Homo sapiens: one gene and its partners. The protein of the gene in region 1 purifies or fractionates together with the protein of each later gene. This does not show direct contact. Each region holds a gene or a part of one and is shown on either strand. Other genes may lie near its edges.

Region 1 (4,499 bases):
CCATCATCTCAGCCCAAAAGCTTCTTAAGCTGATAAGTAACTTCTGCAAAGTTTCAGGATCCAAAATCATTGTGCAAAAATTGCTAGTATTCCTATACACCAACAACAGACAAGACAAGAGCCAAATCATAAATGAACGCCCATTCACAATTGCCACAAAAGAATAAAATACCTAGGAAAACAACTAACAAGGGAAGTGAAGGACCTCTTTAAGAAAAACTATAAACTGCTGCTCAAAGAAATCAGAGATGACACAAACAAATGGAAAAACAGTCCATGCTCATGGATAGGAAGAATCAATATTGTGAAAATGACCATACTGCCCAAAATAGTTTATAGATTCAGTGCTATTCCCATTAAGCTACAATTGACATTGTTCACAGAATTAGAAAAAACAGTTTTAAAATTCATATGGAACCAAAACATAACCCAAATAGCAAAGGCAATTCTCAGCAAAAAGAACAAAGCTGGAAGCATCATGCTACCTGACTTCAAACTATACTATAGGGCTACAGTAATCAAAACAGCATGGTAGTTGTACGAGAACAGACACATAGACCAATGGAACAGAATAGAGAACCCAGAAATAACACCGCACACCTACAACTATCTTATCTTTGACAAACCTGACAGAAACAAGCAATGGGGAAAGGATTCCCTATTTAATAAATGGTGCTGGGACAGCTGGCTAGCCATATGAAGAAAATTGAAAGTGGACCCCTTCTGATATGGTTTGGCTGTGTCCCCACCCAAATCTCATCTTGAAATGTAGTTTCTATAATCTCCATGTGTCATGGGAGGGACCTGCTGGGAGGTAATTTAATCATGGGGGGCAGTTACTCTCATGCTGTTCTCATGATAGTGAGTGAATTCTCATGAGATTTGACGGTTTTATAAGGGGCTTTTCCTCCTTTTGCTTGGCACTTCTCCATGCTGCTGCCATGTGAAAAAGGACATGTCTGCTTCCCCTTCTGTCGTGATTGTAAATTTTCTGAGGCCTCCCAAGCCATGCTGAACTATGAGTCAATTAAACCTCTTTCTTTTATAAATTATCCAGTCTTGGGTATGTCTTTATTAGCAGCATGAGAGCAGAGTAAAACACCTTCCTTACATCATGTACAAAAATCAACTCAAGATGGATTAAAGACTTAAACGTAAAACCCCAAACTCTAAAAACCCTAGAAGAAAATCAAGACAATATCATTCAGGACATAGGCTCAGGCAAAGATTTCATGATTTCATGACAAAGATGCCAAAAGCAACTTCAACAAAAACAAAAATTGACAAATGGGATCTGATTAAACTAAAGAGCTTCTGCACAGCCAAAGAAACTATCAACAGAGTAAACAGACAACCTACAGAATGGGAGAAAAGTTTTATAATCTATTCATCTAACAAAGGCCTAATGTCCAGCATCTACAAGGAACTTAAACAAATGTATAAGAAAAAAAGAACCCCATTAAAAAGTGGGTAAGGAACATGAATAGATAATTCTCAAAAGAAGACATACATGCAACCAAGAAACATATGAAAAAAAGCTCAACATCACTGATCATTAGAGAAATGCAAATCAAAACTACAATGAGATACTATCTCACACCAGTCAGAATGGTGATTACTAAAAAGTCCAGAAACAACAGATGCTAGCGAGGTTATGGAGAAAAAGGAACACTTTTACACTGTTGGTGGGAGTGTAAATTAGTGCAACCATTGTGGAAGACAATGTGGTGATTCATCAAAGACATAGAGGCAGAAATACTGTTTGACTCGGCAATCTGATTACTGGGTATATACCCAAAGGAATATAAATAATTCCATTTTAAGGATACATGCACGTGTATGTTCATTGCAGCACTATTCACAATAGCAAAGACATGAAGTCAACCTAAATGCCCATCAGTGATAGACTGAATAAAGAAAATGTGGTACATATATACCATGAAATATTATGCAGCCATGTATAGATGAGTTCATGTCCTTTGCAGGGACATGGATGCAGGTGGAGGTGATTAGATTATCCTCAGCAAACTAATGCAGAAACAGAAAACCAAACAGTGCATTTTCTCACTTATAAGTGGGAGCTGAATGATAAGAACACATGGACATATGGAGGGTGGAAACACACACTGGAGCCTGTCAGAGGGTGGGGAGTGGGAGGAGGGAGAGCATCAGAAAGAATAGCTGATGGATGCTGGGCTTAATACCTCGGTGATGGAATGATCTGTGCAGCAAATCACCATGGCATACATTTACCTAATAAACCTGCACATCCTACCTATATACCCCTGAAGTTAAAATATTGCAAACAGAAAAAACAAAACTTTTTTGTTGTTGGTTTTTTGCATTTCTTTTTAGGTTCAGTTTCATTGAGTTCTGCTCTGATCTTTATTCCTCCTACTAATTTTGGGTTCAGTTTATTCCTGGTTTTCTTCCTTAATATGTGCTGTTAGGATGTTAATTTGAAATATTACTACTTTTTTGATGTAGGGATTTATTGCTATGGATTTGCCTCTTAATGCTGCTTTTGCTGTATCCCTTAGGTTTTGGTATTTTGTGTTTCTATTTTCATTTGTTTCAAGAAATTCTTAAACTTCTTAATTTCTTTCTTTACTCATTTGTCATTCAGGAACATGCTGTTTAACTTTCATGTATTTGTATAGTTTCAAATGTTCCTCTTGTTATTGATTTCTAATTTTATTCCATTGTGGTCACATAAGATGATATGATTGTAATTTTTAAAAATTATTTGAGACTTGTTTTGTGACCTAACATATTGTCAATTCTGGAGAATGTTCCATGTGCTGGTGAAAATAATGTGTATTTTGCAGCTGTTATATAAAATGTTCTGTAAAGGTCTGTTAGGTCTGTTTGATTTATGGTGTGGTTTAGATCCAATGTTTCTTGATTTTCTGTCTAGATCATCTGCCTAATGCTGAAAGTAGGGTGTTGAAGTCCCCACCTATTATTGCTTTGAGGTTTATCTCTCCCTTTAGCTTTAATAATATTAGCTTTATATATCTGGGTGCTCCAACATTGGGTCCATATATATTTCCAATTGTTATGTCGTCTTGCTGAATAAATTCCTTTATTTTTACATAATGTTCTTTTTTATATAGCCTTTGTCTTAAAGTCTGTTTTATCTAATGTAAGTATAGCTACTCCTGCTTGTATTTGGATTCTGTTTGCATGTCTTTTTTCCACTCCACTTTCAGTTTATGTGTGTCTTTACAGGTGAGATGAGTTTCCTGTAGGTGGCATATAGTTGGTTTTTTGAGATGGAGTTTCGCTCTTGTCACCCAGGCTGGAGTGCAATGGCATGATCTTGGTTCACTGCAACCTCTGCTTCCCCGGTTCAAGCAATTCTCCTGCCTCAGCCTCCTGAGTAGCTGGGATTACAGGTGCCCGCCACCATGTCCAGCTAATTTTTGTATTTTTAGTAGGGATGGGGTTTCATCATGTTGGCCGGGCTAGTCTCAAACTCTTGACTTCAGGTAATGCACCCTCCTTGGCCTCCCAAAGTGCTAGGATTACAGGCGTGAGCCACCATGCCCAGCTGGGTCTTATATTTTTAAATCCACTTGGCCAGTCTATATCTTTTAATTGGGAAATTGAATCCATTTACATTCAAGATTATTTGATAGATGAGAACTTACATCTGTCATTTTATTGATTTTTTTTTTCTGCTTGGTGACAGTCTTGCCTTTATTTCTGAAGGATAGTTTTTCTGGATATAATATTCACTGACAGTTATTTTCTTTCAGTACTTTGAATGTATCACTCCATTTTCTCTTGGCCCATAAGGTTTCTGATGAGAAATCTGCTATCAGTATAAGGGGGATTCCCTTATATTTGGCTTGATGCTTTTCTCTTGCGTGTTTTTATCATTCTTCCTTTGTCTTTGCCTTTTGATAATTTGACTATAACATTCCTTAGAGAGGATGTATTTGGGTTAAATCTATTTGGGAAATTTTGAACTTCTTGGATCTGAATCTCTCTCTCTCTCCCAAAACTTGGAAAGTTTTCTGCTATTATTTTATTAAATATGTTTTCTGTGCCTTTTTCTTTCTTTTCTCCTTCCAGAATTTTTATAATGTGAATGTTTTTTGCTTACTGATGTCTCCTAAATCCTGTAAACTTTATTTTTTTAAAATTCTTTTTCTTTTTGTTTTTAAAATCCTCATGTATTATTTCAAAAGACTTGTCTTCAAGTTCAGAAATCCTTTCCTCTACGTTTTCTATGCTGTTGTTGAAAAATCGTATTTTTTATTTCATTCATTGACTTCTTCAGCTCTAAAATCTCTTTTTTTATGATAGCTATCTTTTTGTTGAATTTTTCATTTAAATCACAAATTGTTTTCCTGATTTTATTGAATTGTTTATCTGTATTCTCTTTTATCTCATTGAGTTTCCTTAAGATTATTATTTTGAATTCTTCTTCTGGCATTTCATATATTGCCTTATAATTGGTTATGTTACTGGAGAATTACTGGGTTGATTTG
Region 2 (4,499 bases), on another chromosome or scaffold:
TTATCAGTCTTTAGCAGAGGAGTCAGATATATTTCCTCTCTTAATTTATGAATAAGTAATTTGAAATTAAACTGATATGTCTTTCGGTGCTATGTGCATTTTGTTGTAATACCTCACTCAACAAAACACCTTGAGGTTTACCTAGTTCATTTACATACTGCTCACAACAACCATTTGTATTTTGTGGTGCTTTCACTATATTAAAGATGAGTAACCTAAAATTCCAGTGTTAAATGATTGCCTAGAGTCACACTGTTGACGGTCTGGGGCCTTTTTCACCATGTTACTTAGTTCTCTCATCAAACCACCTAGGACTGTCAAGCATACTTCATTGTGTGTTTAGAGTCCAGCATCTCATATGTGGCCACTTGGTGGGCCAGTGCTACCGTGTAGGTAGTACCAGCTTCCTGAAGGTGCCCACATGCTTGTAGGCCCAAATTGCCACTAACAGCGAGACCCCATTCTCCCCACCATCCACCCCGAAATGAGGATTATTCTGCTGAAAACAAAGTAAAAATAGTGAAAACACCTTTGTTTCAGAATGTAGAAATTAGAGATAATTTTTCAACCCATCTATTTTAAGTATGTTCCAAGGAAAATCTTTGCAATAAATACAGTTCTTGCCACACACCTTTGTCTTTCGAGGTAAGACTGGCCTTTGATTAGTAAGAGACATGATAACCCACACTTGAGGGTTACTCCGGTCTCTAGACTCTTGATTTACCCTTAAAACAGGAATGAGAAATTGATTTTCTGCATTTTTTAAGGTTTTTATAAATGTTACTATTGATAATAGAAAATATACTTTTTAATCCATATGAGTGTTTATGTGTATGTTTTTTTTAGGATGATAATGATGTTTATATTCTGACCAAAGTGTCAGATATTTTACACTCAATATTCAGTAGCTACAAAGAAAAGGTGTTACCATGGTTTGAACAGCTGCTTCCATTAATTGTCAACCTCATTGTAAGTGTTACCTCTCTTAATAGTTGTTTTGCGTAGTTTACCTGGAATTCTTTTCACTGCAACGTAAAATCTAATGCTTGAAGTTAAAATGGGTCTCAGAAATGATTGTTTCCATTGTACATCTTTGATTTTATCAAGTTGACTGCATTACCCTGGATATTTTCTCATTCATTATATGCTTGAAGATTCCTAACTTGGTTTTCCATAGGCCAATTCAGTTCTAACACATCTGAAAGATATATAAGTGATTTTTTTTATTATTTCAGATTATCTGTGCCCTCCTAAATTAATAAAAGGAAACAGAATGGTTACTTCTTTTTTAGTGGACCATAGATAATTCAATTATCTTTGTTATGTACTACCAGCAATCATGGATTATGGATAATGGGCATATATATATATATATGTATTTTTTTTTTACCTTCTCTCACCCTTATATTTGATTTTTTTAAAATGTTTTATAGACTTCTTTTTGTTTGTTTGTTTGTTTGTTTTTCTCAAGATGGAGTCTTGCTCTGTCGCCCAGGCTGGAGTGCAGTGGTGCAATCTCGGCTCACTGCAACCTCCGCCTTCTGGGTTCAAGCAATTCAGACGCACGCCACCACACCCGACGAATTTTTTGTATTTTAGTAGAGATGGGGTTTCACCATGTTGACCAGGCTGGTCTCCAACTCCTGACCTAGTGATCCACCCGCCTCGGCCTCCCAAAGTGCTGGGATTACAGGCATGAGCCACTGCGCCCAGGCCTACGCTTCCTATTTTAAAGCAGTTTTAGATTCACAACCAAATTGAACAGGAGGTACAGAGATTTCCCATGTGCCTCTGCCCCTGTGCGTGCATGGCCTCAGCACCATTAACACCCCCCATCACAGTAGTAGATACATGTGTTTCTGTTATGGACCTACATCAACACATCATATAATGGCCTATGTGTATTCAGTTTTTTTGTTTGTTTTGTTTTTTTGTATTTTTAGTTGTGTTTTTTTGTTGGGTTTTTAGTAGAGATGGGGTTTCACCATATCGGCCAGACTGGTCTCAACCTCCTGACCTTGTGATCCGCCCACTTTGGCCTCCTAAAGTGCTGGGATTACAGGCGTGAGCCACCTCGCCTGGCTGTGTATTCGGTTTTTAAAAAATATATTATAAATTAGCAGCTATCATCAGATGTTTGGAATTTTTCTTTTTGGCTTTCAATTTTGCATTTTATTGTATTAAGTAGTGCAGTACATTTTTTAAAAGATTCGGGCACACATGACTTAGCCTGTTGAATAAATGCTATAAGTTAAGATCTTTGCAGCTTTTATTATTATTGTATTTTTTTAATGTAGCATTACCATTGTCTTTTTTACAAAGTAAATTTATATACAATGCTTCCACTGTCAGTTCTTCTGTGTGATAGTGTCAGATTGTAGAGTTCTGTAACAAATCATACAAGTCTTTGAAACCTAAATTTTATTAAATCTGTGTATTTGATTGAATATCGTTGGTCACAAGAAGTGGTTGTTACTATGTTTTCTTTTTTCTTTTGCCTGTATGAGGAATATCAATGTAAGCAGATAGTCTATAGTGAATATTTCTTTACATTCTTTGTGTACACCAGTATTTGAAGCTTAAAAGAGAATTTCTTTTGTAGTGTCCACATAGACCATGGCCAGACAGACAATGGGGATTATGCATCTTTGATGATGTCATAGAACACTGTAGTCCAGCCTCATTTAAATACGCAGAATATTTCTTAAGACCAATGCTCCAATATGTATGTGACAACAGCCCAGAAGTCAGGCAAGCAGCTGCATATGGCCTGGGAGTCATGGCACAGTACGGTGGAGATAATTATCGCCCTTTTTGTACAGGTACGTTTGCTTATTCCGTTACGTGCATTTCATTCCAGACATCCTGTGAATCCCTACTTTACTCTCTTTACCACACTCCCAAACATTATTTGCCTATTTCTGCTGTAGTCTGTTTTCAGACATCTCATCTGTAGCATTTAGGATTTTAGATGATAAAAAGATGATTTATTCTCATAGAAATAGAATCAAAGACATCCCCTGCCCCCAGCCTTCCAGGGTGCATTTCTCTTTGCGTTTTGGCAATATACAACAGCCTTAGAATAGGACTTTTTTTTTTTTCTTTAATTGAGGCCCAGGCTGGAGTGCAGTGGCATGATCTCGGCTCACTGCAACCTCCGCCTCCCGGGTTCGAGCAATTCTGCTTCAGCCTCCTGAGTAGCTGGGACTACAGGCGCATGCCACCACGCCTGGCTAATTTTTTCTATTTTTAGTAGAGATGGGGTTTCACCATGTTAGCCAGGATGGTCTCGATCTCCTGACCTCGTGATCGGCCCACCTCAGCCTCCCAAAGTGCTGAGATTACAGGCGTGAGCCACCACACCTGGCAGAATAGGACTTTTAAAACTTACTGGGGAATATAGTTAGGCAGCTTTTAAAGTTTAAGGACCCTCGGGTGATGTGATGAGTACTGTAAATCTGGAGGCCACTAATCTCTCTGGGTCTCTAAGTTAGTAGAGGGCTAGTGCTCCTGTCCATGCTGGGGCAGTCCCCCCTCTGTTGCCATTCTGTAATGACATAGCCAAGAAGACAACACTTCCCATACACTTTAACATTTCTTTACCATAATCAATATCTGAACCAAATACAAAAATACATATATTCATTTGCATGAAAATGTGAGGTTTTAGCTGAACTTCTTTCAAATGCTTATTTTAGAAGCACTTCCCCTGCTGGTAAGAGTTATTCAGTCTGCGGATTCTAAGACCAAAGAAAATGTCAATGCTACAGAGAACTGCATCTCAGCAGTAGGGAAAATCATGAAGTTCAAGCCTGACTGTGTAAACGTTGAAGAGGTCCTTCCACACTGGTTGTCTTGGCTTCCACTACATGAAGATAAAGAAGAAGCTGTTCAGACTTTCAATTATCTGTGTGACCTGATTGAAAGGTAGGAAAGCAGACTGTGACCTTATTTCCTTCTCCTCCACAGTGCTTCCTGGTTTTTCTTGCCTAACATCAGTCTTTTAAGGTTTAACCACATGATCTCTGCACAGTCCTCAGTTGTATAGGTTTATAATAGTGCTGTCTTTATAAATCATATTAAGAAACCATATCACAGTTAACATTGCCCTTATAATAAGGTCTAATTTTGAGTTATTCTTTATGAAATTAGATTCAACAGATGAGGCACTTTAATTATTTATTTCTTTGTTTTTAAATTTTTTTGGTAGCGACAAGGTCTTAACTGTTTTGCACAGGCAGGTCGCAAACTCTTGGCCTCAAGAGATCCTCCCACCTCAGCCTCCCAAAGTGCTGGGATTACAGGCATGAGCCACCAAACCCAGCCTAAGGGAATGTTGTTTAGTGTCTGTTTTCTAAGTCCAAGTTCCCCCCAAATATCAGTCAGATCTAAGCTCTGTCGCTATTATTATTTTTAGGTTATGAATAAATTCAAGGGCTACAACCACTGCCACTATTGTAGCAATAGGCCAACAGGTATATTCTCCATACTTGTTTAAG
Region 3 (4,499 bases), on another chromosome or scaffold:
ACAAATATGACATTTATTGTTTAAAGGAGCAGCTACTACTGGCACTAAAGGAGATCTTTTATCTTTATTACGGGACGGTTCTCTGTGGCTTTGCTCCTTTTATGTCCTTAAGGCTTAATTATAATCATTGTTGAAATTTCTTCCACCTATTCTCAAAGTTTAAGAGTATTACAAAGGGATTTTTCAAATAGATTTGATAACGTGAAGAAAAGGCATCATTTTGTTTAATTTTACCAGTTTAAGTGAATCTGAGTTACTGGTTGTTCAACTGAAAATGCTTTATTTTTTTTTTAGTTGCCCTGTGGAATCCTAATTTTGCCAAGTTTGTTTTCTAACCATTTGAAAATGTCATGTAAGGTCATATTTGGTGATAACATTGAATTGATAGTTTATAGAAAAGAAATTTTTCCCCCTATTTTCTTTTCAGTTCCAGTTAAAGTTGAAATCTCATTGAGGAAATGATTACTTATCTATGTTATCAGATAACTTATTTTAGCATTTAACTTTGTGGTTTTATTAAAGGAATATTTTCTTTTTCTGTTTTATGTCTCTTCTGTTGCCTTTTTCATTTATTTCTTTGGAAATAGCTCTTAGCTCTCCTCTTCAGGAATTGCCTCGCTAATAATACATGTTTCTTTCTTATACTTGGGGTACAAAAATTAGTATCTCAGACTGCTTTGGATAGATTCAACATACGATGTTGGGTTTTAATTGATAATGGATGAGTTCAAGGTTTTGGCCCATAGAGAAGCTTCCCACCATTATGTAGGCCTTCTTTGTACTTACTTGTACCATCTTTAGACTAGGTTTATCTGTTTGAAGTGTTATTTTTTCCCCCATTCAGGATATGGTAACCAAAATATGAGATATAATAAGCTGGAAATTTTACAGAGTGGAGGTAGATTCATTGGAGTTTTTTGAAAATTTTAAACTATTTAAAACAATTTTTTTAAACTGTATTTAGGATAAGATAGTTTGAAAGGTTTCATTCATTTTAGAAACTCACCCATTCTGTTTATTTTCAACAAGTTGAGCCACTGAGGATGTTTTTTAGATATGTCTTTTTCCCCTACCCCACATATGTAAGTATATAATACACGTAAATAGAAGATAACAAACTTTTATGTAAAATATTAGAGGTCTTTGAAACACAGTATTTATAATTACTTAGATTTTGGACTTTTCTTCCCTACTTTGTAGAGTCCAATTAACAATGTGTCTCCGTGCCATCATAAAACATGATTTTCCTGGTCACTGGCCAGGAGTGGTCGACAAGATAGACTATTACTTGCAATCACAGAGCAGTGCAAGCTGGCTTGGCAGTTTATTATGCCTGTATCAACTGGTGAAGACATATGAGTAAGTTGGTTTCCATTGGCTGAAGAAAGCAGCCTTGTGTAACTTAGAAATAATGAAGTTGCAAAGAGTGGTCTGTTGTGGATGTTCTGCACAGGTTATCAGATTAGTTTGGGAAATGTTGGGTTAAACATGCTTAAATGTGTTTATTTGCTGCAGTTATTGAAAGAAACTTTAATGTGCTGATGGATATTGCTAACCTCTGAGACAGTGATATAATATGAAGCACTTCTCAAACTTGTTAGTTGCACAGTACCATTTATTAACAGCTTTCCTTGGAAACTCTGATATAGAGATACCTTTATATTTGTCTTCTAGGGAGTATATTAAGTAAACCAAAACATTTACTTTTTTGGATGCAAGATAGAAAATGTTAACGTTTCTTTGCTAATGACATTCTTTTCCATAAAAGTAGCTTGGGTAGGTAGAGGACTAATATCACACTTAATAGTATTGCTTTCTGGTTTCTAGGAAGATTGCTACATGTGTATATGAAGTCCTGTAGTTCTCCTTTTAAACTGACTAGTTCCTACTCTGCTTATGAAATTTATAGAACATATTTTAGATTTATGGCAATTAAAGCAATCTAAGAGCACCTAAATTTTAAACTATTTTAACTACTCAATTCAGGGAGAAATATAATAAGAAAATTCCCCCCATATTATTTGTTATATAGTCTATTTAAAATAGCATAGCAACTTATATTTTATAGTAAGAATTTTGGCTGGATGAAAATTAATTTAAATACTAGAAACATTCATGTAGGAAAACTGCAAAATGGTCTCGGGTTGTTTTAAACTAGTCTAAATCTTTCCAGAAAGATTTTAGGTGTTGTGCCTAAAACAGGATGTGTTATTTTAAATTTCTTTTCAACTTAATTCTAGCAATTCAAACAAACTAGAAGCCAATGTTAATGACTTTGTTTTGTTAGTTTTATGTATTTAAAAAATATTTTATAATTTATTGTTGATGGTTCTTTGGGTGGGAAAAATTACTTTTCTGTTTTTGTCTTTGCTCATGTAGATATAAGAAAGCAGAAGAGAGAGAACCTCTTATAATAGCAATGCAGATATTCCTGCCTCGTATTCAGCAACAAATTGTTCAGCTCCTTCCTGATTCCTCCTATTATTCTGTATTACTGCAGAAACAAATTCTGAAAATCTTTTATGCACTTGTTCAGGTAGGTTTCTATTGCAGAAAACAAACATGGAGTCCTGTATTTCTGCCTGACACATGGAAAGTGCTCAATAAGTGTCACTTATTATTAAAAATTATTTTGTATTATCCCATATATTTCTTTAAAAAATGCTTATGAGGAACAGGTTCACAGAAATTAATTACCCAAGATCGTCTCAATGGCATATCTGCCCCTAAGTGCTTTTCACTCCAGTGTCTGAAATCATGGGTAAAGCAGAACCAGGGTAGGTAAACCTACCTGCTCTAAAACCTGATTACTCGCAACTATCTGTTCTGTAGCATTCCTGCCTATAGATTAGTTATGATTACAAGAGAAGAAGAAGGAAAAGAAGAAGGAAAAGAAGAAGGAAAAGAAGAAGGGAGTCCCTCTTCTATTGGGAAATCATATTGATGGTAGTTTCTTTGCATTTGACTCAAAGCTAACAGAGGATTTAGGGTTCATTTTCCTTGGTTTAAAATACTGCCTAAAAAAAAAAAATCTGAATGCTATAAGGGATACCAACATGGGAATCCGGAAAGAAATGAGAAGATAGAGATGGAATATGTTTGAAATATAAAAATATTTAACATCAAATCCTTGAAAGATTTGGGTAAATTATTTAGGTCTGATTGGAGGAAGAATAATTGTTTTCAGTCTTAACTGTTTGATGAATGAATTAAACTCTATTACATGCTTTCTAGTTGAATTTGTCGTGAGAAGAGGATGGTTTTGTTGAGCTCAAAAACCATGATAGTTTGGATCCATCCTTGGCTTTTTATTGACTTAGATACTTAAACTATTTCAAAATATTTTACTTTAATAAAGATTTATATTTTTATTAAAGCTTCCCCTTTTAAACTTTTAATAGGGATAGTCTGAGGCAGATATTTTTTTTTTTCCCCCAGAGCAGCCTTTTTGCAGGGAAAGAGAAGAGGGAAGGAGGCAAATGTGAGAAGAGAAGAAACTAGAATACTAGGAAAATATGTTCTCTCACTTGTTTTGAAATAATATTCAGAGGCCAGACTTCCTTTTTCTATTGGCAGAAACAGCTAGAAATTGGGAAGTAAGACAAAGGCTAATGAAATAATTTTTCTAAAGCCTCTACCTCTAATTGGTTTGCTAAGACGACAGAATCTTCATATTTTTCTCAGTCTATACTTGCTAAAAACCTGGAAAACCTCAACATTTTTAACCATTTTGGTAATCTGTTATGTACTAATACATTAATATTCTCCTCTGGGAAGTAGAAATTTAGAAGGCATTAGGAGCCACTATTACAATGCTGACATAAGTAAAAAGCGATAATATGAGAAGGAGCAGACAATTTTGTTTTTAAAAGTATGAGCAGCCGGGTGCAGTGGGTCAGGTCTGTAATCCCAGCACGTTGGGAGGCCAAGGTGGGTGGGTCACCTGAGGTCTGGAGTTCAAGACCAGCCTGGCCAACATGGTGAAACCCCATCTCTAGAAAAATACAAAAATTAGCCAGAAATGATGGCGGGTGCCTCTAATTCCAGCTATTCCAGAGGCTGAGGTGAGAGAATTGCTCAAACCCAGGAGGCGGAGGTTGCAGTGATCTGAGATTGCACCATTGCACTGCAGCCTGGGTGACAGAGCGAGACTCCGCCTCAAATAAAATAAAAGTATGATACAACAGATCTTGTCTAAGTAGCATAATATTTGTACAGGACACTTGGATATTCTATACATAAGCTCAGCCTAACCCTCAGCCTACTTCTCCTCTGTTCCCTATATCAAATCCAAATGGCTTCCAAATGCACTTAGAATAAAGTGCATTTGAAACTTCTTAATATAGCCCATAAAGCCCTTCATCTCCTCACCTTCTTCTCTTATTCCTACCTTTGTACATGTACAGTCATGTGTTACTTAACTTTGGGGATGCATTCTGAGAAAATGCATTGTTAAGTAATTTTTGTCCCTCTGTGAACATTGTAGAGTGTACTTACAC
Region 4 (4,499 bases), on another chromosome or scaffold:
GGCCAGGCTGGTCTCGAACTCCTGGCCTCAAGCAATCTGCCCGCCTTGGCCTCCCAAAGTGCTGGGATTACAGATGTGACCAGCCACTGTGCCCGGCCCAGTCATAGCTTTTCTGATATTTTTTCTCCTAATGAATGGGTTGAAGCTTCTTATTTTACAAATGTTGTCTTATAATTTTTCTGTACCTGCCTGTGTGTGATGACATTGAATATTATCAAGTGTTCTGCATTTTAGGCACATTTTTCACAACTCAGTCGAGAGCATGGACTGGCTTATTAAATTTTCATTAGGGATCAGGGAAATATTCTCCTGTCTTGAATAAGATGCAGATTAACCATGATATTCATTTCCTAGGGCTGCTCTAACAAAATACCACAACAGAAATTTGTTTTCTCCTACTTCTGGAGGCTAGAAGTCCAAGCTATAAGGTGTCCATGGGATTTGTTCTTTCTGAAGGCTATGAGGGAAAATCTGTAGCCTCTGGTAGCTTGCTGGCAGTCTTTGGCATTCCTTGATTTGTAAACGCATCACCCTGATCCCTGCCTTCATCTTCACATGCTCCCCCTGTGTGTGTCTGCATCCACACTTCCCCTTTCTATATCAGTTATATTGAACTAGGGGCCCACCCTATTCCGGTATGACCTCATCTGAACTAATTACATCTATGACAACCCTATTTTCTTTTTTTTTGAGACGGAGTCTTGCTCTGTCACTCAGGCTGGAGTGCAGTGGTGTGATCTTGGCTCACTGCAACCTCCACCTCCTGGGTCAAGCGACTCTCCTGTCTCAGCCTCCTAAGTAGGTGGGATTACAGGTGCGCACCACCATGCCTGGCTAATTTTTGTATTTTTAGTAGAGACGGGGTTTTGCCATGTTGGCCAGGCTGGTCTCCTGACCTCAAGTGATCCGCCCACCTCAGCCTTCCAAAACGTTGGGATTACAGGTGTGAGCCACTGCATCCGGCCAACTCTATTATCAAATAAGTTCATATCCTGGGGTTTGGATTTCCACATATGAGTTTTTGAGGAACACAGTTTGACCCATAACAACAACCATGGGCACATTATTTAATAGGCTTTAAATCAAGGGCCAAGAGTTGCCAGTGTGTGTAGGTTGCCAGCCTGCAGTCCTTGTCTAGAGGGCCCTTAGTGTTTGAGAAGGGGCACAGTAATGGAATTAGGCAGTTGTTTGTGACTTCAAATCCAGGGGAAACCAGACTGACTAAGTATTTTTATTTTAAACAATTGTATTATCATATGGACAACTTAAAGTCGAATTAAGATACTGTCCTCTTGAATATGAGTACTCTTATATACAGGGCAGGACTGATTATCTGAAGTTACGTTCTGTGCCAAGAGGAATTAGGTAAAGGAAAAAGGAAAAAAACAGACAAGAACTTTGAATTGGGCTTCACTCTGTAGAGGTCGGCAAGCTGCAGCCCATGGGCCAAATGTGGCTTACTGTCTGATTTTGTAAACAAAGTTTTTTTTCCTTTTTGACTCATTACTTGGAAAGAGATGGAGGGAAATGGCAGAATTCTTTGAATGGCAGGGAGACAGTTATGTCCCATGCTTTGGGTGTTCTGGCTTTACATGAGCGGAAAGTTAGGATGACCCTCAAAATGGGGAGTGTAAAGTCTGGTTTAGATATTCTTTGTTATGTGCTTGTCCTGCCTCCAACAATTAGAAATGTTTTGGAAAGTGAATATGTATCCAAGCAGAGGAAATAAAGCATGAGAACTGAGCTTTAAGAAAATTCCTGGTTTATTTTTATAGGTTCTTCAGCCACTTCAGCAGCGATTCTTAAGAGTGATAAACCAAGAAAACTTCCAGCAGATGTGTCAGCAAGAGGAAGTCAAGCAGGAAATCACTGCCACACTAGAGGCCCTGTGTGGCATTGCTGAGGCTACCCAGATTGACAACGTAGCAATCCTGTTTAATTTTTTAATGGACTTCCTTACCAATTGCATTGGATTGATGGAAGTTTACAAGAATACCCCAGAGACTGTCAATCTCATTATAGAAGTTTTTGTTGAAGTTGCACATAAACAGATATGCTATCTTGGAGAGGTAAGCACTTTCTAATTTTATCCCCTCAGGATTAAAACTCTTTGAAGCTGTAATAAAATAATAGATCTTTGCTTAAAATTTGATTAGTATTATCTTAAATAATATTTTTATTCCTTCAAAAGATTTTTAAAAAAGATTTTTGAAAAGAACTTATAATTTAGAGAAAGTCATGTTGAATGAATGTAAATTTTTTTTTTAATTTCTTCTAAAAGGAAACAGGATACATATACAGAACGTTCAGATTTGTTACATAGGTATATGTATGCCATGGTGGTTTGCTGCACCTGAATATAAATTCTTGTCCTAAAATTTTGTTAGAAAAGGGGTAAAATTAAAAAAAATATACTCTTAATATATGCTTTCTAGAAATTATTGTTTTAATGTAGTTTAAAGCAAGAATTATTGCTACTGTTGGAATTCGGAGTTAATTTATATAGATTATATTTTAAAATTTTTTTAATGTCAGTGTACCAAGTAGCATAATTTGTGCATTTTTTTTTTTTTCAGTCCAAAGCTATGAACTTATATGAAGCCTGCCTTACTTTGTTGCAAGTGTATTCTAAGAATAATTTAGGGCGGCAAAGAATAGATGTTACAGCAGAAGAAGAGCAATACCAAGACCTGCTTCTCATTATGGAACTTCTTACTAACCTGCTGTCAAAAGAATTCATAGATTTCAGTGATACAGGTAAAATGTAACGTGATGGTTTTTAAACTTTGTTGTTATCCTCCTTTTTATTAAATCAAAGGATTGTTTTCTGTAAGAGACATCTCATGAGGAAATTCAATTTATGGAATAAATGAAAGAAGATCTTTGTGGTCAAAGTGAGGGTGAGGACCAGTGGCCCTCCTGCTTGCCTTTCCTCTTGTAAGAATAATAGAAATAGTATCTCTCATTCATTGAGATCTTACTAAATGCCATGCACTGTTCTTACCTCTCACAATGGTATGAAGTCAATCCCATTGTTATTCTCACTTTATAGATGAGGAAACAGAAGCACAGAGAGCTTAAGTCACTTGGCCACAGATACTTAGCCAGGACTGGGATTCAAATCCCAGCCTGTGACTCCAGATGCCAGTCTCTTCAGAGTTACACTTCCTGACTAATCACTTCTCCATGTTCCTCACGGTGGCCACCCCAGAAACCCTAGCACTTTCCAGAGTGTGGCTTGGAAAGCCCTGTTGGTGTAGGAAGCACTCTCTCTGGAGTTAACAGCCCACACTTTGAAGACCTAGCCTAGTGTCTCACCTACAGTATGATGTGAGGGGAGTTGATTAGCCTACCTGTGTCTTTACTAGCTGGTCAAATGGGTATGATAATAAATACCTTTCAGTGTGTTTGAAGGATCAGCTGTAAAGTGTCTTTGGTGCCTAGCATTGTGTCTGACAATCAGTAGGTAAAAGATAGTTGCTGTTACAGGCAAGAACCTGATCAGTAATTTAAACCTCATATATGTGTATAGTTTTCAGTGCTGTAGAGTTCACTCCCCTCCTATCTCACTGCCAACCTTGACTTCAAACAAAATGGATCCTGTTTCATGACAGAAAAATGAATCATATCTAGCCTCTCCTATTATATGTTGTGCAGACACGTGTGGTAGTGGACATTTTTGGCTTCTTCCTTGTAAGATTCTCTTTCTAAGTTGGGTGCTATAATATCCACTTGACTTATTTATCCCAATCCTTGAGATTGTTCTGTTTCCTTAATTTTTTCGTATTCCTTATTCACTGGACCATGTCTTTTTTTTTTTTTTTTAAATTCTTGGGCAACGGTTTTTCCAATATCTGCCCTGAGCTAGGTACCATCAACTTCACAGTGTAGAAGGTTTACTCTTTATTTTTTTTGCAGTTAACTAGGGGTACCAAGGTGAGATAGTCTGAAAAGCACTGTACAAATTCACTTTTCCTCAGTGAATTCTTTCTGGTCTGTTTTTAGGCCCAGCCTTTCACCCAAGTTTTCTAACTTTCTTCAGGTCAGTTCTGCTTAATCCAGGAGTTCTTAACTTTTTCTTTCTTTCCTTGTTGTTGTTTGAGAGGCAGGGTCTCCCTCTGTCATCCAGGCTAGAGTGCAGTCGCATGGTCACAGCTCTGTGCAGCCTCAACCTCAGGCTTAAACTATTCTCCCACCTTAACCTCCCAGAGTGCTGGGATTACAGGTGTGAGCCACTGTGCCCAGCATTCTTAACCTCTTACTAATACAGTATTAGTTGGTTCATGGACTCCTGGAAACTCTTCTATACATTTTCCAGGTGTGTCAGGAACCCAGGTTAAGAATCTTGTCCCCAGAGGAATCTGTAACTAAATGTTAGGACCCAGAGCTAAAACATGTATATGTTTAGATGATTTACTGTCATGATTACTCTGTGTATCATAAATCAGCTCATTGTTTCAATTTTTTCATTTCTAGAAATAGTATCATCATTTTCTTGG
Region 5 (4,499 bases), on another chromosome or scaffold:
TGGAAGAAACAGGAGGAGATTCTTGGAAATATAGTTTGAGGGTAAGTATTAATTGCAAGAAAAATTGATAGGGGAAAGCTTAATCTTTCTAAAGCTCTTAGTAGAGAATGACACTCTATTAAAGATTCCAGACATTTGCTGGGCATGGTGGCTCACACTTTAATCCTAGCACTTTGGGAAGCCAAGGTGGGAGGATCGCTTGAGGCCAGAAATTCAAGACCGGCCTGGTAAACATAGTGAGACCCTGTCTCTGCAAAAAGTAAAAAAAGGAAAAAAAAATTAGACCAGAGTGGTGGCGCATACCTGTAGTCCCAACTCTTCAGGAATCTGAGGCAGGAGGATTGTTTGAGCCCAGGAGGTTGAGGCTGCCGTGTGCCATGATGATGCCACTGCGTTCTAGCCTGGATTACAAAGCAAAACCCGTCTCTTAAAAAAAAAAAAAAAAAAATTAAAGATTCCCAACATTAAGTCAGACAGATAAGAAACTGTTTATAAGAAACTAAGAACTATATTCATATTAAATTATGACGTTTAATCTGAGTTTTTTTTCTTTTTTCTTTTTCTTTTTTTTTTTTTTTGAGACAGAATCTCACTCTGTTGCCCAGGCTGGAGTGCACTGGTGCATCTCGGCTCACTGCAAGCTCCGCCCCCTGGGTTCATGCCATTCTCCTGCCTCAGCCTCCCGAGTAGCTGGGAATACAGGCGCCCGCCACCACGCCCAGCTAATTTTTTGTTTATTTAGTAGAGACGGGGTTTCATCTTGTTAGCCAGGTTGGTCTCGATCTCCTGACCTCGTGAGCCACCCGCCTCGGCCTCCCTAAGTGCTGGGATTACAGGCGTGAGCCACTGTGCCTGGCCTTTTCTTTTGTTTAACTTGGGGTCGGAAAACAAATTTTTTCTTCATCTTTTAGTACATTGCTTGGGAAATAATTGTCATTACACAAATAGAAAATGTTTGTCAAACTGAAAGCTGCCATTCTTAAGCTAGAATTTTTTCCTTCTATATATTTCATTAGTAAAGTTTCTTTTGGTATGTTATTTCTCTTACCACTTCATGTGATTCTCAGAGACTAGCCCATTGCTTTCAGTTATAGGATACTTTTACAACGCATTTATTAATATGACAAATGTTTTGCCGTTACCAGATGTGATGTTTGAGCTCTTCTTTTTAAGATTTGCACTTACATAATTTACATAATTAGCTATTTGTCTTCTAAAAATGTTATCTTTAATGTTTTTAGATTCATAAACATACAGTTGTTAACCAGAGAGATTACTGGTGATTTTAAAACTTTAAAAAATTTCATTCCTTTAATTTTTAAAAGTTTCTTTTATGGAGAAGTTTAAACATATTAAAAAATAGAATAATATAATGAGCCCTTCATGATAAGCTAGTTTATTAGTTATCAACTCATGGCTACTTTAGCTTCCTGTAAACATCTCCCAGTGTTGATGGTTATCTGAGATGACACATCCTCTGACCATATTTCAGTGTGTATATTTATAATGTTCCTTTTAAAACACCACACAATACCTTAAAAATTTAATTAAAAAATTTAAATATTGTGAACGATCTAGTGATTAAATTCCTTTTTAAAATTTAAATAAAAAATTATTTTAAAAAATTTTTTGTGGGTACATAGTAGGTGTACATATTTATGGGGTACATGAGATGTTTTGATACCAGCATGCAATGTGAAATGATTCAGTACTTTTAAGAACCAAACAAATCATTTTTTTAAATGTAGCTAATGCTAATTTCTGTTACCGCTTGTGTTTGTTAAGAGAAAGGCTACTTTATTTGGCAAATTGGAGTTCCTGTTTTTGCTTATTATATCATTGCTAAGAAAATACATAATAGCTACTCGGGAGGCTGAAGCAGGGGAATCGCTTGAACCTGGGAGGTGGAGGTTGCAGTGAGCCGAAATCACACCACTGCACTCCAGCCTGGTGACAGAGTGAGACTGTGTCTCAAAAAAAAAAGAATCTTGGGTAGTCAGCCATTTATAGTACTGAGCTATAAATGAGTGGCTACAGAATGCTTTTTAAATTTAAGGTATGATTAATTTAAAATGTACACTTTGCTTGCCATAGTTTTAAGTTTTTGAATGCGTAATGACAAATAATTGAAATGAAATCAACTTTCTTTTATTAATTATAATTCGATTTTGTTTTCCTTTGTGTTGGTTATAAAAAAATGGTAACCTTACTTTTTTTTTTTAACAAATCAAAAGTTGGAAACATTTTCAAAGTTTTAGAATTTTAAGATTAAGTATTTGCTTTATTAAAGAATTAGTCAATATAGTATGCAACTGTTTTGATGAGAAATTTGTATTTTTCCCTCTCCAGCCATGCACTGAAGTATTATTTATAGATATATTCCATGAATATAATCAGACTCTTACTCCTGTACTTCTAGAAATGATGCAAACACTTCAAGGTAAGGCATATTTTGTGATTAACTTTGAGTTAATCTCTTTAACGTTTAGTTAAGAAATAGTCTGAGTGCCTACAATGCATACTGTACTGTTTCCTGGGTCATATAATAAATATGAATTTGAGAAAAACAATTTTAAAACTTATTATCTTCCAAGGGGGTGGCATTTGAGATAGGCCTTGAATTATAGTTTGGACGATGATAAATTTTCCTGTAGTAAATACAATAGAAGCAAAAGCAAAACAGTAGTCATACTGCTTGCAGAAAGTCTATCTGGAGCGTGTTGTGAGAAATAGTGAGAAAAGGTTAAAATAGTGTTAGCCTCTCTTAGAATGGTGGCAGTGGGAATGGAAATAATTGATTATGGATTTGAGAGAAAATGATGATGTAAATTTTTGACACTTGGTCATTACACTTTGTACACAAGTAACTAATTATCTGCCTATTAACTAACATTGATTTATGATTTCTGTCTTTTCTGCTAGACTGTAAGTCCTAGGGGCATTGATCACGTCTGTTTTGTTTATATTTTATTCCCAGTGCTGGGCATATTCAGTAACTATTGTTACTTGATTGACTTTTAGCAACCGATTGAATGTGCTAGGCAAGGAAAAGTGATCAAAGATGATCCTAAACTTTTGAGCCTTAATGACAAGGAAACAGTTACCTCATTAGAAGTGGTAGGAGATAGAGATATACTTTCGGAGTGCATGTATGTAAGGAGCCTTGGGAAAAGAAAAGAGGATCTTAAGGACAGAACCTGAGATTTTCACCTATAGGGATATGAGTAAATAAAAGCCTTGTAAAAATGCCAGGTGTAGTGGTGTATCCTAGAGAAGAGCATGTTGTCAGAATGAGTGTTGGCCAGGCATGGTGACTCACGCCTGTAATTCCAGCACTTTGGGAGGCTGAGGTGGGCAGATCACTTGAGCCCAGGAGTCCCAGACCAGCCTGGACAACATGGCAAAAACCTGTCGCTACAAAAATTAGGAAAATTAGCTGGGCCTGGTGGTTAGTACCTGTAGTCCTAGCTATTCAGAAGGCTGAGGTTGGAGGATCATTTGAGCGCAGGAGGATGAGGCTGCAGTGAACTGAGAAAACCTCACTCCACTGTACTCCAGCCTGGGTGACAAAGCAAGACCTTGTCTCAAAAAAAATAATTTTGTGGTATATAGCACATTAGCATTTTGTGGTGTATATTTTCTAGAATATTGCTTGTCATAACATTTTTCAAATATGCTATAATGGTTTTTAATCCTGTGTTCTCTAATGATAATCATAAAACTTAGACTTTCCCTTTGTACTTGTGTCCATTTTTGACACCATGAAATGTGTTATACTTAATTGAATTGGGAAACTAACAAATTGTGTTTAAATATAAATTTTTTAAAAAACTAGTTTTATTTGCTTTTACTGATACCTATTTATATATATATTTTTTAGGACCCACAAATGTGGAAGATATGAATGCACTGTTAATCAAAGATGCTGGTATGTTAAACTTAAGTGATTTAGAAGCATTTATTTATTCAGTAGATGGAGAGTCTGTTTTGTGGTAGATTTTGTGCTGAGGGTGTTGAGATACAAGAGTAACTAAAATACAGGAACAATCTGATTGGGGAGATAACCAAGTAAACAGATAATGTATTATAATAATACTATACAGGATAGTTAATGCTAAAGTAGGTGATGATCACCAGATAGTTTGGTGTGTCTAAGGAAAGATTCCCAAAGAAGTGTAATGGAAGAACACAAGGATAAGTAGGAGTTACACGTGTGAGGAGGTGGTGATGGAAAGAGGGTGTTGCATTCCAGGGAGATGGAGCAATAAGTACAAAGACTTGAAGGAAAGAGGAGGAAGCACAGTTAGAATTTGAATTGTGACTATTTTGGTTTAACTGGAACATTGGGGTTAAAGGTTGAGTTGAGGCTGGAGAGAGTTAAGTAGGGACCAGATCATAAAATATTACATCCATTTTAGAAGCAGGCATTATTTTATAATTTTTATAGTTGGACTTAAATATTTTAGAATGAATTGAATTATCTGTTTGAAAGTAGTAAG
Region 6 (4,499 bases), on another chromosome or scaffold:
CATAAATCAGGCTGTCTGTTAAAAATACAGTTTTATTTCTTCCATTATTTTATTTTATTTTTTACAGAGGTGAGGTCTCACTATGTTGCCCAGGCTGGTTTTGAACTCCTGAGCTCAAGTGATCCCCCTGCCTTGGCCTCCCAAAGTGCTGGGATTACATTGTGTGAGCCACTGTACCAGGCCTCATATTTCTTCCATTCTAACTTTATACCTTTTATTTCCTTTTCTTGTCCTGTTATGCTAGCTTAGACTTCCATTACAATGTTGCACAGGAGTGGTTAGAAGGGACATCTTGTCCATTTCTGATTTTACTTTCTAACCATGAAATATGATATTAGCTATTTTTTGGTAGATATTCTTTAGCAAGTTGAGGAAGTTTCCCTTTTATTCCTAGTTTGCTAAGAGTTTTTCATATGAATCAGTCTTGGGTTTTGTCAAATACTTTTTCTGCATTATTGGTATGATCATATAATTTTTTCTTTAGCCTGTTGATATGATGACTTACATTAACCAATTTTTGAATGATAAGCCAGCCTTGCATATGTGTAATATGCCTCTCTTGGTTATGGTATGTAATTTTTTCTGTATTGTTGGATTATATTTGCTAATATTTTCTTGAGGATTTTGTATCTACTTTAATGAGTGATATTGATCTGTAGTTATCTTTTCTGGTAATGTCTTTATGCGGTTTTGGCAGTAGGATAATATTGGGCTTGTAGAATAAGTTAGAATGTGTTCCCTCTGTCTACTTCTACTTTCTGGAAGAAATTGTAAAAAACTGGCATTATTTATTCCTTAAATGTTTAGTAGGATTAACCAGTGAAACCATCCGAACCTGGTGCTTTCCTTTTTGGAAGGTGATTTTTTTCTTCTTCTTTTTTTTTTTTTTTACTAGTTATTGACTCAGTGTCTCCTTCCTTCCTTCCTTCCTTTCTTTCTTTCTTTCTTTCTTTCTTTCTTTCTTTCTTTCTTTCTTTCTTTCTTTCTTTCTTTCTTTCTTTCTTTCCTTCCTTCCTTCTTTCCTTCTTTCTCTCTCTTTCTTTCTTTCTTTCTTTCTTCCTTTCTTCCTTTCTTCATTTCTTCATTTCCTTCCTTTCTTTCTCCCCTCCCCTCCCCTCCGCTCCCCTCCCCTCCCCTCCCTTCCCTTCCCTTCCCTTCCCTTCTCTTCCCTTTCTTCCTGCAACGTCTTGCTTTGCTGTCCAGGCTGGAGTGCAGTGGTGCGATCATGGCTCCCTGCAGCCTTGACCTCCTGGGCACTAGCGATACTCCCACCTCGGCCTCTGGAATAGCTGGGACCACAGGCATGCACCACCATGCCCTGCTAATTTAATTTTTTTTTTTTTTTTAAGAGATGGAGTCTATGTTGCCCAGACTCGTCTTGAACTCCCTCGGCTCAAGTGATCCTCCCACCTTGGTCTCCCAAAGTGCTGGGATTACAGGCATGAGCCACCATGCCTGGCCCACTAAAGCACTTCTTTTTATGTTTCTCGCACAGCAGGTCTATTGGTGAAAGGTTTGTCTGAGAAAGTCTTTATTTATACTTCACCTTTGAAGGAAAATTTTTCTGGATATAAGATTCCATGTTGGTGTTTTTCTCTTTTTTAAGTTTCAATGCTTTAAATATTTCACTTCACTCTCTCCTTGCTTGCATTGTTTCTGACAAGAAGTCCAGTGTTGTTCTTGTTCTTCTATATGTAAGGTGTGTTTTTTTTCCTGTGACTTTTTTCTGTCTTTCTTTTCCCTCCCTCCCTCCCTCCCTCCCTCCCTCCCTCCCTCCCTCCCTTCCTTCCTTCCTTCCTTCCTTCCTCTTTCTCTCTTTTCTTTTCTTTTCTTTCTTTCTTCTTTTGAGATGGGGTCCCACTCTGTTTCCCAGGTTGGAGTGCAGTGGTATGATCACGGCTCATTGCAGCTTCACCCTAGTGGGCTCAAGCCCAAGTGATCCTCCCACCTCCGCCTTCCAAGTAGCTGGGGCCACACGCGGGTGCCACTAAGCATGGCTAATTTTTGTATTTTTTGTAGAGATGGTGTTTCATTATGTTGCCCAGGCTGGCCTCGAACTCCTGAGCTCAAGTGATCCACCTGCCTTGGTCTCTGAAAGTGCTGGGATTATAGGAGTGAGCTACCATGCTTGGCCATCTTTGTCTTTCTAAAGTTGAAATATGATATGGCTAGACGTGGATAGGCATATTTGGATATTTATCATGCCTGGTATTCTCTAAGCTTCCTGGGTCTTTAGTTTGGTGTCTATCATTAATTTTGGAAAATTCTCAGCCATTATTTATTCAAATTATTTCTTCTGCTCCTTTCTCTTTTCTTCTTCTTGTATTCCCATTATATATCTGTTACACCTTTTGCAGTATCCCACAGTTCTTGGCTATTCTGGGGTTTTTTTTAAATTCTTTTTTCTCCTTGTATTTCAGTTTGGGAAGTTTCTTTTTTAAAAATTGTTTGTGATAGGGTCTTGCTCTGTATCCCAGGCTGGAGTGCAATGGCGGGATCTTGGCTCAATGCAACCTCTGCTTCCCAGGTTCAAGCAATTCTTGTGCCTCAGTCTCCTGAGTAGCTGGGACTACAGGTGTGCACAACCATGCTGGCTAATTTTTGTTTTTTAAGTAGAGACGGGGTTTTGCCATGTTGGACAGGGTGGTCGCCAACTCCTGACCTCAAGCAATCTGCCCACCTTGGCCTCCCAAAGTGCTTGGATTATAGGTGTGAGCCACCACACCGTGCCCAGTTTGGGAAGTTTCTATTAACATCTTCAAGCTCACTGATTCTTTCCTTGTCAGTTTCTTTTTTTTTTTGAGACGGAGTTTTGCTCTTGTTGCCCAGTCTGGAGTGCAGTGGCGTGATCTCAGGTCACTGCAACCTCCGCCTCCTGGGTTCAAGTGATTATCCTGCCTCAGCCTCCCAAGTAGCTGGGATTACAGGCATGCGCCACCACCCCTGGCTAATTTTGTATTTTTAGTAGAAATGGGGTTTCTCCATATTGGTCAGGCTGGTCTCGAACTCCTGACCTCAGGTGATCCACCCACCTCGGCCTCCCAAAGTGCTGGGATTATAGGTATGAGCCATTGCGTTCAGCCTCCTTGTCAGTTTCAAGTCTACTGTTGAACCCACTGAAGGCATTCTTCATTTCTTTAATGGTGTTTTGAGCTCTAGCATTCACTTTTGGTTCGTTCTTAGCATTTCCATCACTCTGCTTATATTATCCATCTGTTTGTGCATGTTATCTGCTCTTTCTGTTAGTGCTCTTAACATTTTAATTATAGTTTTTTAAAATTCCCTATATGATAATTCTAAAATCTGTGTCATACCTGAGTCTGGGTCTGATGTTTGCTTTGTTTTTATGTATTTTTTAGCCTTGTAATTTTTTAGTTGAAAGAGAGATATTATGTATCAGGTAATAGGCTTTTATTATGCGGCCTTATGTTAATTTGGCTAGGAGCTGGGTTGTGTTTAATGCTTATTGTAGCTATAGGTGCCAGAGACTTCAGTTTCTCTAGTGTTTTTTTCTCTCCTTTCCTATTGTCTTTGGGTTTCCTTATGAACTCCTTAAATAGGTTCTGTGCCTTGTAGCTCTCTCACTTATAATCTTCTGTTATTATACTGGAGCCCTGTTGATGTGGTAGTAAAGTGTTGGAGGAGAATCTGTTTATACTTTTATGATTAAATCTTATTCTTTTAGTGGCCTGAGCCTCTGGACTGTGGCCTTCAGAAGTGTTTCTTAGCCTTTTCTCTTTCTCTCTTCTTAAGTAATACAGAAAGGCTATAGACAGCTGGAGTTGGCTAATTTTCTTCTCTCAGGTCAGATAAGGCTCTGACATCTTCCCTTGAGATGGAGGGAATAATCTAGGTATATTTTAAAATGATTACTTCTTTCCATCCCCCAGAAAGAGGAGGAGATTTTTCTTGGCTCTTTACTGTGAGAATCTGGTGGGGTTCCTGGAAGTAAAACTCATGACAGTGTGATAGCATCCCCAAGACTGGGTCCCGAGGATGAAAACCCATGAAAGTGTGGTAAGCATCCCTAAGACCAGGACCTGAGGAGGTTTTTATTCTCAAGCTAGTCCACACTCATCCTTTAGCAGTTTGTCGGAGTTACTGCTTAAGTACTTCTACTGGTTTATGACTCCAGCAGCTTCTGCATGAGGTGATTTGATCTTAGCTGTAATTTTCTTAATCTCCTTCTTTCTCCAGTTTTCTGAGTGGCAGTTTGCCCTGTCACTTCAATTCTCTGAGGAATCTAAGAAAAGCTGTTGATTTTCAATTTGTTCAGCTTTTGTTCTTATTATAGGGTGGGAGTGATGACCTCTCATGTGAGAGGGAAACCTGGAAGTCAATAGTGGCTTTGGAAATGGCAGTTTATTTTTCTTTCACACTAATGTAGCCAGCCCAGGGCAGATATGGCAGCTAGCTCTGTGATCATCTGGGACCCATGATCCTTTTATCTTGTCACTCTGCCATCTTCAGTATGTATCGTCCACCTTGTGTTTGGAAAT
Region 7 (4,499 bases), on another chromosome or scaffold:
GAAATGGGGAGATATAGGTCAAGGATACAAAATAGCAGATATGTAGGATGAACAAGTTTAGAGATACAGGGGGACCAATGTTAGTAAAATTGTATTAGAGATTTTTGTTAAATAAGTGGATTTTAGCAGCTCTTGTTAAAGTATGTGAAATGATAGCTATATTAATCTGCTTCACCATTTTGCTGTCTATATTCCATAGCATCATGTTGTAAACCTCAGTTGCACAATGAAATTTATTTTTTAAAAAATTAGGGTGCAATAAAATGTGTAAATTCTTTACACTCATAAGTATGAGTATAGGTGTTAACTTTGAAATCGTATCAGAAAAAGTATATGATATTTGATTTATACATTTTAATTTCTACGGAGCATATTTTATTTAAATTTATTGAACTTGAAGCAATTTTCGTTCTTTTCAGCCTTCACCTTCAGCCTATACCAGAAGTTCCCAGACATACAAGAGCTTTGTGTTCTTACATAAGTGCTACTAACCTAAAGCCACATTTCAAAAGCGGTTTGCCTATAAGAAATTAGGGAAGTCATCACAGTGTGTTATTATCCTAACCTATGGTCATGTATCTTTTTATGTGCCTCAGATGCATGATGGAGTTGGTGGAAGGCAGGAGATTAGTAGAGAACTTCGAAAGAACAGAAGGATCATTTGCATTGGACAGTAGTGTTTCACAATAGAAATTGATGTCTGGGAGAATGCCCCTCAAGCTTTCCCTTTTTCACTTTAAAGAAGCTTGTTTGCTTCCTCTCACTTCCATAACGTCTATATTGGATAAAACACTAGTGGTTATTATAACAAAAATAAACTTTGCAGTTGGAGGAACACTAATATCTGAGACAGTAGAAATGACATGAGTAAAGAAGGGCTGCTTCAGACCATTATTAACTGGTGACTTGATGTTTTTCTTTTGGCTTGCTGATGGCGATCCATGTCCCTATTTCAGACCACACTTTTCCCATCAGTGATACTCTTACACTAATAAACATATCCCAAGGGCAAACAGGTACACTAAAATGAGCTTATTCCTATCTTTCAAGACCATGATGAAAACTATCCTAATGAGTCTTCACTGATTACTAAAACCAGATGGCCAGTCAGCATCTGAATTCCTAAATCATTCTGTATTATTCATGAGACAGCATATTTCCTTAAGTATTAATGTTTGGGTCTGTAACTTTTTTTTTTCCACTCCTCTCAGCTCATACCTATGGGTACATATTCTTAATACTATGTTTTTAAACTGCATGGGGTAATGGGACTTACTAATAACTAATAATTCTTTTTTTTTTTTTTTTTGAGACAGAGTCTCGCTCTGTCAGTGGTGCGATCTCCGCTCACTACAACCTCTGCCTCCCAGGTTCAAGCGATTCTTATGCCTCAGCCTCCCAAGTAGCTGGGACTACAGGTGTGTGCCACCATGCCCGGCTAATTTTTGTATTTTTAGTAGTGACAGGTTTTTGCCACGTTGGCCAGGCTGGTCTCGAACTCCTGGCCTCAAGTGATCCACCCACCTCAGCCTCCCAAAGTACTGGGATTACAGGTGTGAACCACTGTGCCCAGCCTCTAATGACTCTTAAATTCCCTGAATGCATCTGTGTCATTACCCCCATTCCCACCCCCACTACTGGGATGTCTAGCAAAATTCCTTGCACATCGTTTTTGAATAAATCATACATTATTGGATTTTTTGTTTTCAAACATTTTAATTAATCATTAGAATGACATCTTAGCTGGAAGTGAAACCTTCCATCTGTGCTCCTCTGTACTGCTACCTCCCTACTCTGGCCCTCTACTTCCCGCTGGCCTGTTAGTCAGGAACTACAGCGTTAATTGAAATTGAGTGATCTGCTAAGGTTAATCTGACTTTTCTGGTTTTCTAAGGTTATCAGTGACAGGGGTTAGGCTTGGACTGCTAAGATTATTCTCTGCCACAGGAGATAACCTGGTATGAAATTGGACTGGTGTGTTTTCTTACATGTGTCTTCCTATTTTTCTGATTCAATTCCTTTCCCTTTTTAAAACCCACTGACTCTTAAAAAAACCTACAATCTTTCTGTCGTGTAGCTAGTTTGGTTTTTTTTTTCTTTTAGCTGTGCTGTTAACAGTTCTGTAGTAGCTGTGACTACCCTTTGGGGACTGGGGAAGAAATGGGAAATGTTGAACATTTGGAAGCTGCAGCTAATATGGGATTGTTCTTTGGGGGCGGGTCTCTTAGTCACAGTACTGTGACTGTATTGATACATGTAATCTGAAGAGAATCTTAGAATATTTCCACCAGAAAGGTTTTTGGAGATAAACTAGTTTTCATTTTTATAAATGTGGAAACTTGAGTCCCAGATCACCATAAGTGACTTATCTAGATTCATACAACTTGTCAATGGCAGCCAGGAACCTGACATGCTTAGCATAGAAATCAGACTATCAAGAACTATGACAGTAAAGGAGGAATTCTCTGTTATTTTGGAACCGTATACCGCTTTTTACAGCCCAGTCAAGATGTAGGAAATTGCTTCTTACTTCGGAGAAAGGCACCAGCGAGCAGTGTTACAGAGCTTGATTAGAATGATCCCTGGTAAGAAGTGCTATGTTACTACAAGTTCACCAAACCTAAAATTGTGGGAGGAAAGTATTCTTGTTTCTTAGTTAAGTATTGGTGTAAAGAGTTCCTTTTAACATCTGAAATCAAGAGGCAATTGAAGATTTCAAAGGACCCATCAGGAATTTTGGAGTTCAGGGCAGGCAAAGAAAATCTTTAGAAAAGATTTTAAATGGCCTAATTCTTTATATGCTTTGCCACATTTTTCTTCTGCTAGTTCATCTTTACACGTCACTATATAGGCTTCTGGAGAATAGCATGTGTAAATTTAAGTAATAAAGATGAACCATGTGGCAATACAGTTGTTCTTTAGGTACAATTATGTGATTGATTATGGGGGTGGGATGGAATAGGGGCATTTGTGACCTAATAGTTCCCTTTTCCCTGAGGACTAGGACGATAATGTTTCTGTATATGGATTTGTTAGGGCTTAATAGTTTTCCAAGTGCTTCAAGACATGTTAGCTAATTGGATCTTCACAGGAACTCTATGAGGTAAGCAGGATAGAAAGGTGGCAGATTATTGGTTTATAGGTGAAGAATCTGAGGTTGGATTATTTGCCAAGATCACATGGTTAATAAGGAGCATAGCCTGGGCCAAAGCCCGAATCCCTTCACTCCCAGCTCTCTAAGTGCTGCTGACAGATGTTTGCTGATTATGGTGTGAAGTTGTATACTTTAGTATTTCTTTCTGAGACATACAAACCCCTGTAGTAAAATTCTTTCCACTACTACCAAAGAAGCTCAAAAAACTTAAAATAGGCACTTATTGCTTCCAAAAGTACCACAGAAAGCCAGGAATCTGTATTCATTGCCTAGCCACTTGATTCTTATGACAAAGATTTTGAAACTCTGGGGAAAGGCTATGTGTCAACTTGTTTTATGTGTCATGATTGTTAAAATGCTAGAGAAAACAGCAAAGAGCCAGTTAAATCTGTGTCTGCTCAAATAAGACAAGGGGCAAGAGTGTGGAAAATCCAGAACAAGATTCCCTGAGAGATCATCTAGACCCCGTTCTTTCTAGTCAGAAGTATAGTTGTGATTAATATGACATTAATCTTTTGCAAAGTTTAATTCTTGGATTCAGCCATCTGCTTTAATTTTAACACATCTGTTTTGTAACCTAAAATAATTTTAAGGTGTTTGTTTATTTGTTTGTTTGTTTTGAGATTACGATTCTTAAGAATAGATACAAGTTTTAAACCTTGGATAAAACTAATTTTTATTCTTCTGGTTCAGTTGTAGAACAAATACAGGTTAAGTTGTCTTCCAGCTCTTTTAGATAAAGCAATATTAGTGGTTTTATAGTGCTAAGTGAAAAGAGACATTAGAATTTCACCATATTAAACTATCTCCCAAGAGTAATATGAGTGAGGGAAGTGTTCCTTTTAAAAGTCATGCTTCTAGGCTGAGCATGGTAGTTCATGCCTGTAATTCCAGCACTTTGGAGGCCAAAGCAGGAGAATTGCTTGAGCCTATGAGTTTGAGGTTATAGTGCACTATGATATCATTACCCACTACAATAAAACACGAAGTTCAGATGGTCATTCACTAGGGTGTGTGATATTTTGGAGTATAGACCTTAAGTGATTATGACATATCAAAATAATGTGGTCTTATGTTTCTTTTTTTTTTATTGCAGATTTCATTGAATATACTTCTATTAACAGCCTGCTATATATCAGGCATTCTGATAGGTGTTGGAGATACAAAAAATGAATAAAGCAAAAATAGTTCCTGCCCTCACAAACAAGTAAATAAGTGATTCATCTATAGTGTGATTAGTACTGATAGAAATATGCCATTTTGTGTGTACATTATTACTACCTTCCTTTTGAAGATTAGGCTTTTTTGTTAGACTCTTGAAGTTATGGACCTTTTGGATGGAAAA

What was found.
Region 2: the proteins of CD200R1 (region 1) and IPO5 purify together in Homo sapiens (co-immunoprecipitation; one large-scale study listed by IntAct). This does not show direct contact.
Region 3: the proteins of CD200R1 (region 1) and IPO8 purify together in Homo sapiens (co-immunoprecipitation; one large-scale study listed by IntAct). This does not show direct contact.
Region 4: the proteins of CD200R1 (region 1) and XPO4 purify together in Homo sapiens (co-immunoprecipitation; one large-scale study listed by IntAct). This does not show direct contact.
Region 5: the proteins of CD200R1 (region 1) and IPO11 purify together in Homo sapiens (co-immunoprecipitation; one large-scale study listed by IntAct). This does not show direct contact.
Region 6: the proteins of CD200R1 (region 1) and NCR3LG1 purify together in Homo sapiens (affinity purification with mass spectrometry, with the first as the bait; one large-scale study listed by BioGRID). This does not show direct contact.
Region 7: the proteins of CD200R1 (region 1) and KIF2A purify together in Homo sapiens (co-immunoprecipitation; one large-scale study listed by IntAct). This does not show direct contact.

Annotation. Positions count from the first base shown.
Region 1 is NC_000003.12:112,933,604-112,938,102, reverse strand, and holds part of CD200R1 (cell surface glycoprotein CD200 receptor 1 isoform a precursor), read left to right. Parts: intron 1-4,499. UniProt on the Homo sapiens protein: Inhibitory receptor for the CD200/OX2 cell surface glycoprotein. Limits inflammation by inhibiting the expression of pro-inflammatory molecules including TNF-alpha, interferons, and inducible nitric oxide synthase (iNOS) in response to selected stimuli.
Region 2 is NC_000013.11:98,015,883-98,020,381, forward strand, and holds part of IPO5 (importin-5), read left to right. Parts: intron 1-846; coding exon 847-969; intron 970-2,602; coding exon 2,603-2,822; intron 2,823-3,698; coding exon 3,699-3,927; intron 3,928-4,499. UniProt on the Homo sapiens protein: Functions in nuclear protein import as nuclear transport receptor. Serves as receptor for nuclear localization signals (NLS) in cargo substrates.
Region 3 is NC_000012.12:30,678,519-30,683,017, reverse strand, and holds part of IPO8 (importin-8), read left to right. Parts: intron 1-1,200; coding exon 1,201-1,359; intron 1,360-2,379; coding exon 2,380-2,536; intron 2,537-4,499. UniProt on the Homo sapiens protein: Involved in nuclear protein import, either by acting as autonomous nuclear transport receptor or as an adapter-like protein in association with the importin-beta subunit KPNB1.
Region 4 is NC_000013.11:20,794,334-20,798,832, reverse strand, and holds part of XPO4 (exportin-4), read left to right. Parts: intron 1-1,775; coding exon 1,776-2,069; intron 2,070-2,576; coding exon 2,577-2,757; intron 2,758-4,499. UniProt on the Homo sapiens protein: Mediates the nuclear export of proteins (cargos), such as EIF5A, SMAD3 and isoform M2 of PKM (PKM2). In the nucleus binds cooperatively to its cargo and to the GTPase Ran in its active GTP-bound form.
Region 5 is NC_000005.10:62,485,422-62,489,920, forward strand, and holds part of IPO11 (importin-11), read left to right. Parts: coding exon 1-41; intron 42-2,349; coding exon 2,350-2,440; intron 2,441-3,880; coding exon 3,881-3,928; intron 3,929-4,499. UniProt on the Homo sapiens protein: Functions in nuclear protein import as nuclear transport receptor. Serves as receptor for nuclear localization signals (NLS) in cargo substrates.
Region 6 is NC_000011.10:17,361,763-17,366,261, forward strand, and holds part of NCR3LG1 (natural cytotoxicity triggering receptor 3 ligand 1 precursor), read left to right. Parts: intron 1-4,499. UniProt on the Homo sapiens protein: Triggers NCR3-dependent natural killer cell activation.
Region 7 is NC_000005.10:62,308,779-62,313,277, forward strand, and holds part of KIF2A (kinesin-like protein KIF2A), read left to right. Parts: intron 1-4,499. UniProt on the Homo sapiens protein: Plus end-directed microtubule-dependent motor required for normal brain development. May regulate microtubule dynamics during axonal growth. Required for normal progression through mitosis. Required for normal congress of chromosomes at the metaphase plate.